3 linked regions of the Homo sapiens genome follow. The protein of the gene in region 3 interacts with the protein of the main gene of each other region in a pairwise test. Each region holds a gene or a part of one and is shown on either strand. Other genes may lie near its edges.

Region 1 (3,657 bases), on a different chromosome or scaffold from region 3:
CCCACCTCAGCCACCCGAGTAGCTGGGACTATAGGTGTGTGCCACCATGCCCAGCTAATTTTTGTATTCTTAGTAGAGACGGGATTTCACCATGTTGCCCAGGCTGGTGTCGAAATCCAGGCCTCAAGCGATCTGTCTACGCCTTAGACTCCCAAAGTGCTGGGATTATCAGTGTGAGCCACCATGCCTGGCTCATTATGTAAATAATTTAATGCATACATCAAAGACAAGTTGGAAACAAAAGAAAAAGGAAAATGTAATTCTCTATGGACTGCCTCTGCACCTGCTATATAAAACAAGTCTATTTCTCTATGGACTACCTCTACCTCTACTGTATAGTACAATCATTATTAACAATTTGGTGATGTTTCTCTTTGTTAGTTTCAGTTATGCTACCTATGTAAAAGTATATATCTTGCGTTTTTGCTTAATAGTGAAATTTTAAAGCAAGAAATAGTCATATAATTGATAAAATTTAACCTATAGATTTTTAAATTTGTTATTTAAACATATTTTTAATTTGCAAAAAGTTCTCAGTTGGTTTTGTGGCAAGGGTATAGGTATAAACTGTGCGTGGTGGATATGTTAATTATTGACCTTGTAATAGTAATATGGGTTGTCTTATAGAGTCATTGCAGAATTGTACTTGCAACAACTCAGGGAACATAGTGTCCTGCCAAAGTGAAGCCTGTCCCTCAGCATATCACAGGAGGAATGAGGAGGGATACAGTTCTCGATGCAACATCGTATTATCAATAATGCTTTTCAGAGGAAATTTATCTAGAACTGAAATAAAAATACACGTAACCGAAAGGAACATATATACTACATATATATTTCTGCTACTATATATGCTTATGTATAGTATACTACATGTGCTTACATATAGCATAAATATATAATATGTATATATTTATTTTTTCATATAGTATTAAAATTAAAATATATAATATATATTTTGTAGAAATGGTCTTCTTTATTTTCTGCTTAATTGGGAGGTTTTAGCCTTTTCTGATATCTCCTGTTTAGTTTGGCTGTTTAAAGTCTTAGGTGTTTTGACAAAGTATTCCATTTAAGTCACTGTAATAAATCTTCCCTCCTGGATTTTTGTCTTGAGGCTACATGCTGGCCACTGTTTTTTATTTCATTATTACAGCTTAAGAAATTACTTGTTTTCCTGAAGTAGAATTGCCATATCCAATCCAGTTTTTCTCTAGTTCTTACGTAAGAAGAATTCTAAAAATTAAATATATAGAACATTGTTATTTGGCAATTTTAGTGGAATTTCTCGAAGAACATCACCGGGTCCTAGAGTCTAGATTAGGCTCTGTTACCCGAGAAATTACAGATAACAGAGCATGTGCTAAAGAAGAATTGGAAAGCCTCTACCGGAAGATTATCAGCTATGTGTTACTCCGCTCTGGCCTTGGATCCCCTACAGACATCAAGACTGTCAGAGAGGTAACAGGTAAAAAGTATAACCAATTTCCATTTCATAAGTGAAAATATATGGTCATTGTATTTTATAAAACATGTTAAATTAGAAGTGTTAAAGATTGAAGTTCCCTTTTTATCTGAAAAAAAAAAAAAAATCAGCACAAATGAGTTAAAATGTACCCAGTCTCCTTTTACACTGTGTATCCATTCTAAAACTCAAGTAGCACCTCTAGAAAGTGAAATATTGCTAATTTTCCTAGAGCTGTACATATCTAGGCACCTATTACACCCCATTAGAGAAACATTGATAGTAGGATTGAGGGTACCAGGCTGATTGAGTAAATGGAAAAGCTGAAAACGGATATTTCATATTGATGAAAGAAATTGAGTCTGTCATTTAAAATGGGTGATGGAATGGGGCACCATTTTATCCTTAGGAAGTCTTTGCCCTCTTTCATCCTTTAAAATGAGGAATAGGAAAAATGTCTAGCTCTCCTATGGCTTTCTTCCATAATTATTTTAAAGCATCCATTTTTTGGCTCAGATCCCTAATTAGAAAGCTTGTTTTCATGCCCATTGCCAAAAAGTTACTGCTGGATGCTTAATTATTAAAAATGGACATGAGGCAATGGCATAACTCTCAGTAATCCAGCTTTGATGCGTGATAAGTTTTATTATGTATCCTATAATCAGGTATCAGTAATTTAAAGAATCATATAAGTAACTCAGACCCTTAACTTGCTGCTAAAGAAAAACGTTATTTAACGTCTGATATCTTTATTCTATCATTTTGTTTTCCTTTTTTTTTTTTCTGGTTTATTTTAGCTGCTCTACAGAGTGTTTTTCCTCAGGCAGAGCTTGGGACATTTCTAACTCTTTCTAAGAAGGACAAAGAACGCCAGCTGAAAGAACTCACCATGATTGTTACTGGAATTCGTTTATTTAACAGAGACTGTGGAAAAGGAGGAGAAGGCATTGATGATTGTAGGTATATCATTAGATTAATTCTAAAGGTTATGTATGTTTAAAATTTAACTTGCACAGTGAGGAAAATAATAAACAACACACCACTGGCATTCTTAAATTTAAGATTTGCATTTTTTACTGTTTCCTTAAGAATAACTACTGTTTATAATGTGTAGTGATTTTTACTTTTGCTGGGGCAAGACTTTACATTTTATGTACCATGAAGCTAGTAGGAGAAAGTGAATCAGTGAAAGCAATGAAGGGTCCTGCTCAAAGCTAACCTCCCAGTTCAGCAGGGCTTTGTGTTCATTACTGCAAGTCCGTAACCAAAAGGGAGTACAATTTAGTTATTTAAAAAATAAAAATCTTCCTGAAAACAGTTCCTGGTGCAGTTAATGGAATGAAAAGATCCACGAGGAGATATTTCAAATCTCTAAATTCGGGGGCATTTACTTTGTGGTTATATACTTAATGCATTCTTTATAAGTTTGAAAGTACTTATGAAATATTTAATGAAGTACCTACCAGTAGAAGTAACTTCCTTATGAAATTTGGTACTCCTGTAGGCCCACTGATAAGGTGTTAGTGTCTTTCACCAAATCACTAATCTAGTATAAAAGGGTAATTTTTTCTATTTTAAAAACTGTTCTAAAAAGTCAAATTTCCATTTTCATAAATGACCCTCCCTTGCTAGACTATTCTGTCATTTTTCACCATCCAGATGAGTTTCTTAACAAACGTTCCTTTTTTTTTTTTTTTTAATAACTAGAAAAGAAGATATACAAAAGGAAGGGTCAGTGGCTTTTCTGGAAGCACATGGTTAACAACACATAATACCAAACTCTGCCTATTCTCTGAACTCTTCTATATTTAGTGGCAAAAGCTGACCTACTGTAACTGGGTTATCATTCTGTTAATATCTTTTGTTTGAACTTGTTTTAGATTCTTTTTTTTTTTTTTTTTGAGATGGAGTTTCGTTCTTGTCGCCCAGATTGGAGTGCAGTGGCGCGATCTCGGCTTACTGCAACCTCCGCCTCCCGGGTTCAAGTGATTCTCCTGTGCTGGGATTACAGGCATGCGCCACCACGCTCAGCTAATTTTTGTGTTTTTAGTAGAGACGGGGTTTCACCATGTTGGCCAGGATGGTCTCAATCTCTTGACCTCGTGATCCGCCCGCCTCGGCCTCCCAAAGTGCTAGGATTACAGGTGTGAGCCACCACCCCCGGCCTAGATTTTCTTTATGTTGTGGGACCC
Region 2 (3,657 bases), on a different chromosome or scaffold from region 3:
CCACCCGCCTCACCCTCCCAAAGTGTTGGGATCACAGGCGTGAGCCACCGCACCCAGCTGAGACTTGTTTTATGGCCCAGAACATGGTCTATTTGGTAATATACACTTGAAAAGAATATGTATTCTGCTATCATTACATATAATGTTTTAGGCCAGGCGCGGTGGCTCACACCTGTAATCCCAACACTTTGGGAGGCCTAGGTAGGTGGATCACCTGAGGTCAGGAGTTCAAGACCATCCTGGCCAACATGGTGAAACCCCATCTCTACTAAAAATACAAAAACTTAGCTGAGCATGGTGGCTCATGCCTGTAATCTCAGCTACTCAGGAGGCTGAGGCAGGAGAATTGCTTGAACCTGGGAGGTGGAGGTTGCAGTGAGCCAAAATCATGCCACTGCACCACAGCCTGTGTGACAAGAGTGAAACTCTGTCTCAAAAATATATATATATATAATATTTTATAAATATCCATTAAGACAATTTGGTCAATAGTGTTATATCAAGTTATCCTGATTTCTGTCTAGTTATATTAATTGAGAGAGGTGCTGAAATCTCTATGATTGTCACTTTGTGGACTTCTTTGAGTTCTATTGGGTTTTGTTTCACTTCTTGGAAGTTCTGCTTCTAGCCAGATAAAAATTTATAATTGTTATGTCTTTTTAAAAAACTGATCCCCTTATCAGTATGAAATAATCCTCTTTAACCCTGGTAATATTCTTTGCCTCCAAACCTATTTTAATATAGTCACTCCAGCTTTCTTTTGATTCGTGTTAGTGTACCGTATCTTCTTCCATTCTTTAAACCTAGTTCTGTCTATATATTTAAAGCGGGTTTCTTACAGACAGCACAGCTAAGCTTGCTTTTCTGATCTGGTAATTTCTGCCTTTTAACTGTGTTTAGACCATTTACATTTAGTGTGTTACTGATATGTGGATTTAAATATGGCGTTACATTTGAATTTAGAGAGTATTAAAATTCAGTGTCAATGAAGTTAGCAAATTTAAATCTATAAGAAGTGTTTAAAGGCTCTAGAGTAGAGCTATCTTACACATTAAAAACTTACCAGAATGAGTTCAAAAAGTGTTCCTTGGTCAACTTTCAGGAATTCTTGGTCCCAAACAGGGATATCATCTGTTCGCTTTTCTTTGTTCTCATCATCTTCAGGAGGAGGAGGGTCATCCTTGTGGTGGGTGCACCACTGAATGACCTACAACAACAAAAGTTCATTCCTCTGTGGCACTTTGTCACAAGGTACTCATTCCACTGCTGGGACAACTTATCCCTATATTGGAATAATAACTAGCTAGAGGTTGACTTGAGCCATTAACAGCCAAGCTTGAAAAACAAAAATGAAGCTTGAAGAATCATTATAACCCTAGAAGGGAGAAGATCTTATTAGATAAAAGCAAGCCATGCAGACAGAGTACTGTACTTGACTACATTAAAAAGCTTCTATGCAAAAAGAAAAGTTAGGACAATGACTGGAAGATACCTGCAATATGTACAACAATGATTAGCTGAGAGAATATAAAATCTTTCAAAAATCATTAAAGAGAAATGGGTTAATATGTACAGCCAATAAATGAAATCTGAATAGCCAAACATAAGGAACGCTCAACTTTACTAGAAGCAAAACTAACACTACAGATACTTCTCTAGATTGAAAAAAAATCAAGAAACTGATACTAATTGTTGGGCAATAGTGGAAAGGAAACACAAACTCTTCTAGAGAGTATAAATTGGTATAACCCCTTTGAAAGCTAATCCAGCACTCCTCAGAAAAGCTGAATATGTACATATATTGTAACCAGCAAATTCCAAATACCCTAGACACATGTGTGAGACTATTTGGTGTAGGAACAAAGCAGGAAAAGCCCCAAAATTTCCTTAATAGGAGAATAATTACTCCATAAAGTTTCAGGAAGCTGATTACTTAGACTATACATACCAGCATAAAGACCAAAATCAATACTGAAAGTGTTTTCAGTTGTAGAATCTAGGCAGTGGCTACATGGTTGTCTACTGTGTAATTCTTTCCATTTTTCTGTATGGCTAAAACTTTTTCATAGCAAAATGTTGGAGGAGTAAACAATGCTGAGAGAAAATGGCAGAGCCAAGAAACATTGCCAGGATCCAAAAAAAAAAAAAGAAAGAACAATTTCAATAAGGAAAAGCCAAGCAAAGGGTTGTTTGTTTGTTTTTGAGACAAGATCTCACTGTGTCACCCAGGCTGGAATGCAGTGCCGCGATCATGGCTCACTCGACCTCCTGTGCTTAAGCGATCCTCCCACCTCAGCCTCCCAAGTAGCTGCAACTACAGGTGCATGCCACCACACCTGGCTCATTTTTGTATTTTGTTTTTGTAGAGATAAGGTTTCATCATGTTGCAAACTCCTGAACTCAAGCAATTCACCCACCTTGCCCTCCCAAAGTGTTGGGATTACAGCTATGAGCCACTGTGCCTGGCCAGCGAAAGGTTTTTGTTTTCGTTTTAATTTTGAGACTGAGTTTCACTCTTGTTGCCCAGGCTGGAGTGCAATGGCGCTATCTTGGCTCACTGCAACCTCCACCTCCTGGGTTCAAGCGATTCTCCTGCCTCAGCCTCCTGAGTAGCTGGGATTATAGGTGCCTGCCACAACACCCAGCTAATTTTTTTTTATTTTTAGTTGGCCAGGCTGGTCTCGAACTCCTGACCTCAGATGATCCACCCCCCTTGGCTTCCCAAAGTGCTGGGATTACAGGCGTGAGCCACTGCACCCAGCTAAGGGTTTTTAATGAAATAAATAATAGCTTTTTAGGAAGTATTCCAACTATATAAGAAAATTTAAAAACGTCAATATTTGCTTATCCAGGCATTTTTTAAACTCTAAACCTGGGCACAGTGGTTCATACTTGTAATCTCAGCACTTTGGGAGGCTGAGGCAGGACTGCTTAAGGCCGGAAGTTCAAGAATAGCCTGGGCAATATAGAGACACCCCGTCTCTACAAAAAATGATGATAATAATAATAGGCTGGGCACTGTGGCTCACACCTGTAATCCTAGCACTTTGGGAGGCCAAGGTGGGTGACTTACTTGAGCCCAGAAGTTTGAGACCAGCCTGGGTAACATGGTGAAACCCTGTCTCTATGAAAAATACAAAAATGAGATGGGACTGGTGGTGCACACCTATGGTCCCAGCTACTCAGAAGGCTGAGGCAAGAGAATCACTTGAGCCCAGGAGGCTGAGGCTGTAGTGAGCCATGATCGTGCCACTGCACTCCAGCCTGAGCAAGAGAGTGCGATTCTGTCAAAAAAAAAAAAAAAAAATCACTATCACTACTAACAAAAAATAAAAATTTAAAAATAAAAAACTCTTAAAAGGATATATAAAGAAACTAATGCCTAGGTTCACAACGGGTGGTGCCAGTAAAAAAGAAAAACAAAAAAATGCCACATTACTTTGTGGGGGGAGCAGTTTCCAATCAGATAAGAGACAGGGAAAGGAGATTTTATTGTACTTCCATAGTTTTGGCATCATGTAATTATTCTTCAAAATATGATATATATTCAATACAAACAGGCTTAAAAAAAAAAAAAACTTCTCGGCTGGGTGTGGTGGCCCACACCTATAATCCCAGCACTCTGGGAGGCCAAAGGAGACAGATCGCTTGAGCCCA
Region 3 (3,657 bases):
ATAGGTGTATATATATACATATAACTATACATATAAAGGTATATATATACACATATATAGGTATATACATATACATCAATGTCAGACCACAGATATGATGGTGGTCCTATAAGATTATAATGGAGCTGAAAAACTCCATTATACCTGCACAGACCTGGTGGACTGAACAAAGGGGGCGAACGTGGGAATAAAAGATAAAAACAAGAGAGTACGTTTGGAAGAAGAGGTCGGGGGCACCTTGCCTCTAGTGGACAAGGGCCCCGAGCTGTACACAGCCCTCCGTATTTATTGGTAAAAGAGATAACGAGAAATGGGGGGCAATTGTCGGGCAATTGTCAGTCGGCCACTTTGGTTCACAGCAGGCTTGCAAGACTGCATCCTTTGAACAATAGGCTCTAGATTTCTCAATGGATAACTTCAAGGAGCCCGGTGCCAGGGAGTGATGTCCCTCAGCAAACCTTTTGGTGGCAGGCGCAGTGTGAGTTTGCTCACATCCTGCATTCATGATAAACAGTTTGCTGTTTGATCATATAGCCTCCAGTGGAATGCTGAGTTGATCACGATCCCTTTGGCCTTTTTGGCTCTCAACAACTCCTATCGCCTAATGACCGCATAGCTGTCATAGGGTCACAGCACAACATATTATGCAAATGTCTGTGGTGATGCTGGTGTAAACAAACCTACTGTGCTGCTAGCTGTATAAAAGTACAGCACATACAATTATTACAGTATGTAATACGTGATGATAATGACTATGTTAGTAGTTTATGTATTTATTACTCTATAATTTTAAAACACTATTTTAGGGTGTACTCCTTCTACTTATATGGTTTTTAAAAAGTTAACTGTAAAGCAGCCTCGGGCAGGTCCTTCAGGAGGTATTCCGGAAGAAGGCACTGTTAGTTATCACAGGAGATGACAGCTCCATGCATGTTACTTGCCCCTGAAGACCTTCCACTGAGACAAGGTGTGGAGGTGGAAGGCAGTGATATTGATGACCCTGACCCTGTGTACTCCTAGGCTAATATATGTGTTTGTGTCTCAGATTTTAACAAAAAAAATTTAAAAAGTTAAAAAAAATTAAAATAGAAAAAAGCTTATAGAATAAAGATATAAAGAAAATATTTTTGTATAGCTGTACAATGTGTGTTTTAAGGTACTATTACAAGAGTCCAAAAGTTAAAAAAAAAAAGTAAAAGCTTGATAAACTAAAAAAGTTACAGTAAGCTGAGGTTATTATTAAGAAATGTTTTCAATAAATTTCGTGTAGCCTAAACATACAATGCTTATAAAGTCTATAGTAGTGTAATGTCCTAGGCCTTCACATTTACTCACCACTCACTCACTTATTCACCCAGAACAACTTCCAGTTCTGCAAGCTCCGTTCATGGTCAGGGCCTTAGACAGGTGTGCCACTTTTTACCTTTTACATCATATTTTTTTTTTACCAAACCTTTTCTATGTTTAGATACACAAATACCTACCATTGTGTTGCAATTGCCTACAGTACTTTGTACAGTAACCTGCTATGCAGGCTTGTAGCCTAGGAGCATTAGGCTATACCATATACCCTGGGTGTGCAGTAGGCTATACCATTTAGGTTTGTGTATGCACTCTGCTGTTCACACAATGATGAAATCACCTAGTGACACATTTCGCAGAACATATCCCCATCCACAGTGACAAGTGACTGTATTTTAAAGCTGTTCTTTATATAAAAGATAAACTTAAAAAAATACAGTAGAGAATTTTAAACTCCATCCTTTCTTACCTCATCCAGCTTTCATTGCCTTTCTTTTGATTAGACTCAGGATTCTCTTCAAATTCAGATAAAATAACACTGCCTCCTGAGCTGTGTTAATGACTCTATTACTCATTTCCCAGCTAGACTCCAACAGAATTGCAAAGGGCCACCATGCTTGGCCTCTCCACAAAATTGCAAAGACTCTCTCTTATGCCCTGTTCCTCTACCTTACTTTTTCCAAACTCTTTTCAGAAAAACTGATTCTTCTGACCTATTTTTATTTCCTCACCAAAACAATAACATTCATATGAAACTGATAGTACCCATAAGGCCTCTCCTTCAGCCCCAGATATGGAAGAGGCAATCTGGGGCTCTACTTTCCTCAGTATGTACACTTCTCTTAATTTAAATATTTAACTTTTGTAAACAGGTGTTTCACAGTCCTGAGGAATGCTTTAAGCACACAATAAATATTAACTGAAATCAAATCAATTTCTCAGTGCACTAGTTTAAACATGCACATTCCATTACATGCAGTAAGAATATGATATTGTGGTAATAACACTTTAGTAAAACTGGCACCGTTTTCCTCTAAACAAGGCAAGGTAGAATCAAGCCCTTTAGGAAATTAAGAGTGAAGGTTCAGGAATGAGAATGCTAATAAACTCAAATGAAATGCTTAGCTTGTCCCTGAACACTGAGAACATGTTTCTTCCTGCCGTTATATTCTAGAATTATGAAGAATTACTACACTTTTGTGGACTGATGAATTTATTTAAACTGATCTAGAATGGTAATCTATACTTACTATCCATTTCACCTTAAACACTGAAAAATTCTAAAAATATAGAGATCTACTTTATTAAAAAAACTTACATAAATATGAAAATATTCCAGAAATACTAAATTAAATCACCATGAAGTATAAACTGTAGTCACTGGTCAAATTTCTGAAGACAAAGTGAAGTTGAAGATATCTTTGGCTGCCTCAATACAGGAACATAATCTTTCCATCATGATAGAGATCTCAGTCAAGATTTTTTTCAGTTTAAACAAACATTTCATTATTCATATTACTAATAATTTACCATGGCTGGGGTAGGGGCGGGAGAGGAGGGAAGACATCCCATTCGTGTCATGAGAATAGGTCTAGAAGTGTAATATTAAATGGAGTATTATTTAACACAGATCCCACGACATCTCATTATATGCATAAAATGATCAGTATTCTATTTATCAAAGAGAAGGAAGAATTCTTTTCAAATTATTTAAGAAAAAGGAAAAAAAAATACCTATAATACCCTCCGGAAGTACATTTCTTTATTCCTTTTATCATCTCTTGATGTGTAATTTTAAACTCCCGTCCTGGAAAGAGAAGTGTGGCCATCACAGCAGCTTTAGAGTGGGTATGAATCACTGCACCTGCTCCTGAAGGAGGAAGAAGAAAGCCGCATGCTCAATGAAGACTGAATTATAGCTTTTAAAGAAAAAAAGTCCATATAGTTATACTTATATTTACATATGGTTATGGGCTTATTTTTCCTGGCATGGAATAAGTTGGTAGTAGGCAGGAGGGTAAGTGGAATAATGGACCTTCCTCATAGGTTGATGTGAGAACTGAGTAAGTTCATGCACTTCAAGTTCTTGCACATGGTGGGTATCCAAGAAATGTTAACTGAAATAATAATTACCATTATTTAGAGGAGCCTACTCTGCAAATATTCTTTATGTTGAATATATTTTCTGCATACCTCTCATTGTGTAAGCATTCATGAAAAGAGGAGTACACTGGCTTTTTTTTAGCTTCTTCGATGGCGAAGGTCCACTTATGTCCTTTTCATTTATATCACAAACAAACATGTCTTCAGGCTATTTATAGAGGGGAAAAAAAGAAAAAAAGAAGGCTTGTAAAA

Evidence for each region.
Region 1: the proteins of APIP (region 3) and CFAP206 interact in binary tests that used the Homo sapiens proteins (3 or more experiments, as listed by UniProt).
Region 2: the proteins of APIP (region 3) and SKP1 interact in binary tests that used the Homo sapiens proteins (3 or more experiments, as listed by UniProt).

The regions. Positions count from the first base shown.
Region 1 is NC_000006.12:87,414,407-87,418,063, forward strand, and holds part of CFAP206 (cilia- and flagella-associated protein 206), read left to right. Parts: intron 1-1,279; coding exon 1,280-1,468; intron 1,469-2,262; coding exon 2,263-2,421; intron 2,422-3,657. UniProt on the Homo sapiens protein: Essential for sperm motility and is involved in the regulation of the beating frequency of motile cilia on the epithelial cells of the respiratory tract. Required for the establishment of radial spokes in sperm flagella.
Region 2 is NC_000005.10:134,159,924-134,163,580, forward strand, and holds part of SKP1 (S-phase kinase-associated protein 1), read right to left. Parts: intron 1,208-3,657; coding exon 1,064-1,207; intron 1-1,063. UniProt on the Homo sapiens protein: Essential component of the SCF (SKP1-CUL1-F-box protein) ubiquitin ligase complex, which mediates the ubiquitination of proteins involved in cell cycle progression, signal transduction and transcription.
Region 3 is NC_000011.10:34,885,257-34,888,913, forward strand, and holds part of APIP (methylthioribulose-1-phosphate dehydratase), read right to left. Parts: intron 3,614-3,657; coding exon 3,496-3,613; intron 3,173-3,495; coding exon 3,037-3,172; intron 1-3,036. UniProt on the Homo sapiens protein: Catalyzes the dehydration of methylthioribulose-1-phosphate (MTRu-1-P) into 2,3-diketo-5-methylthiopentyl-1-phosphate (DK-MTP-1-P).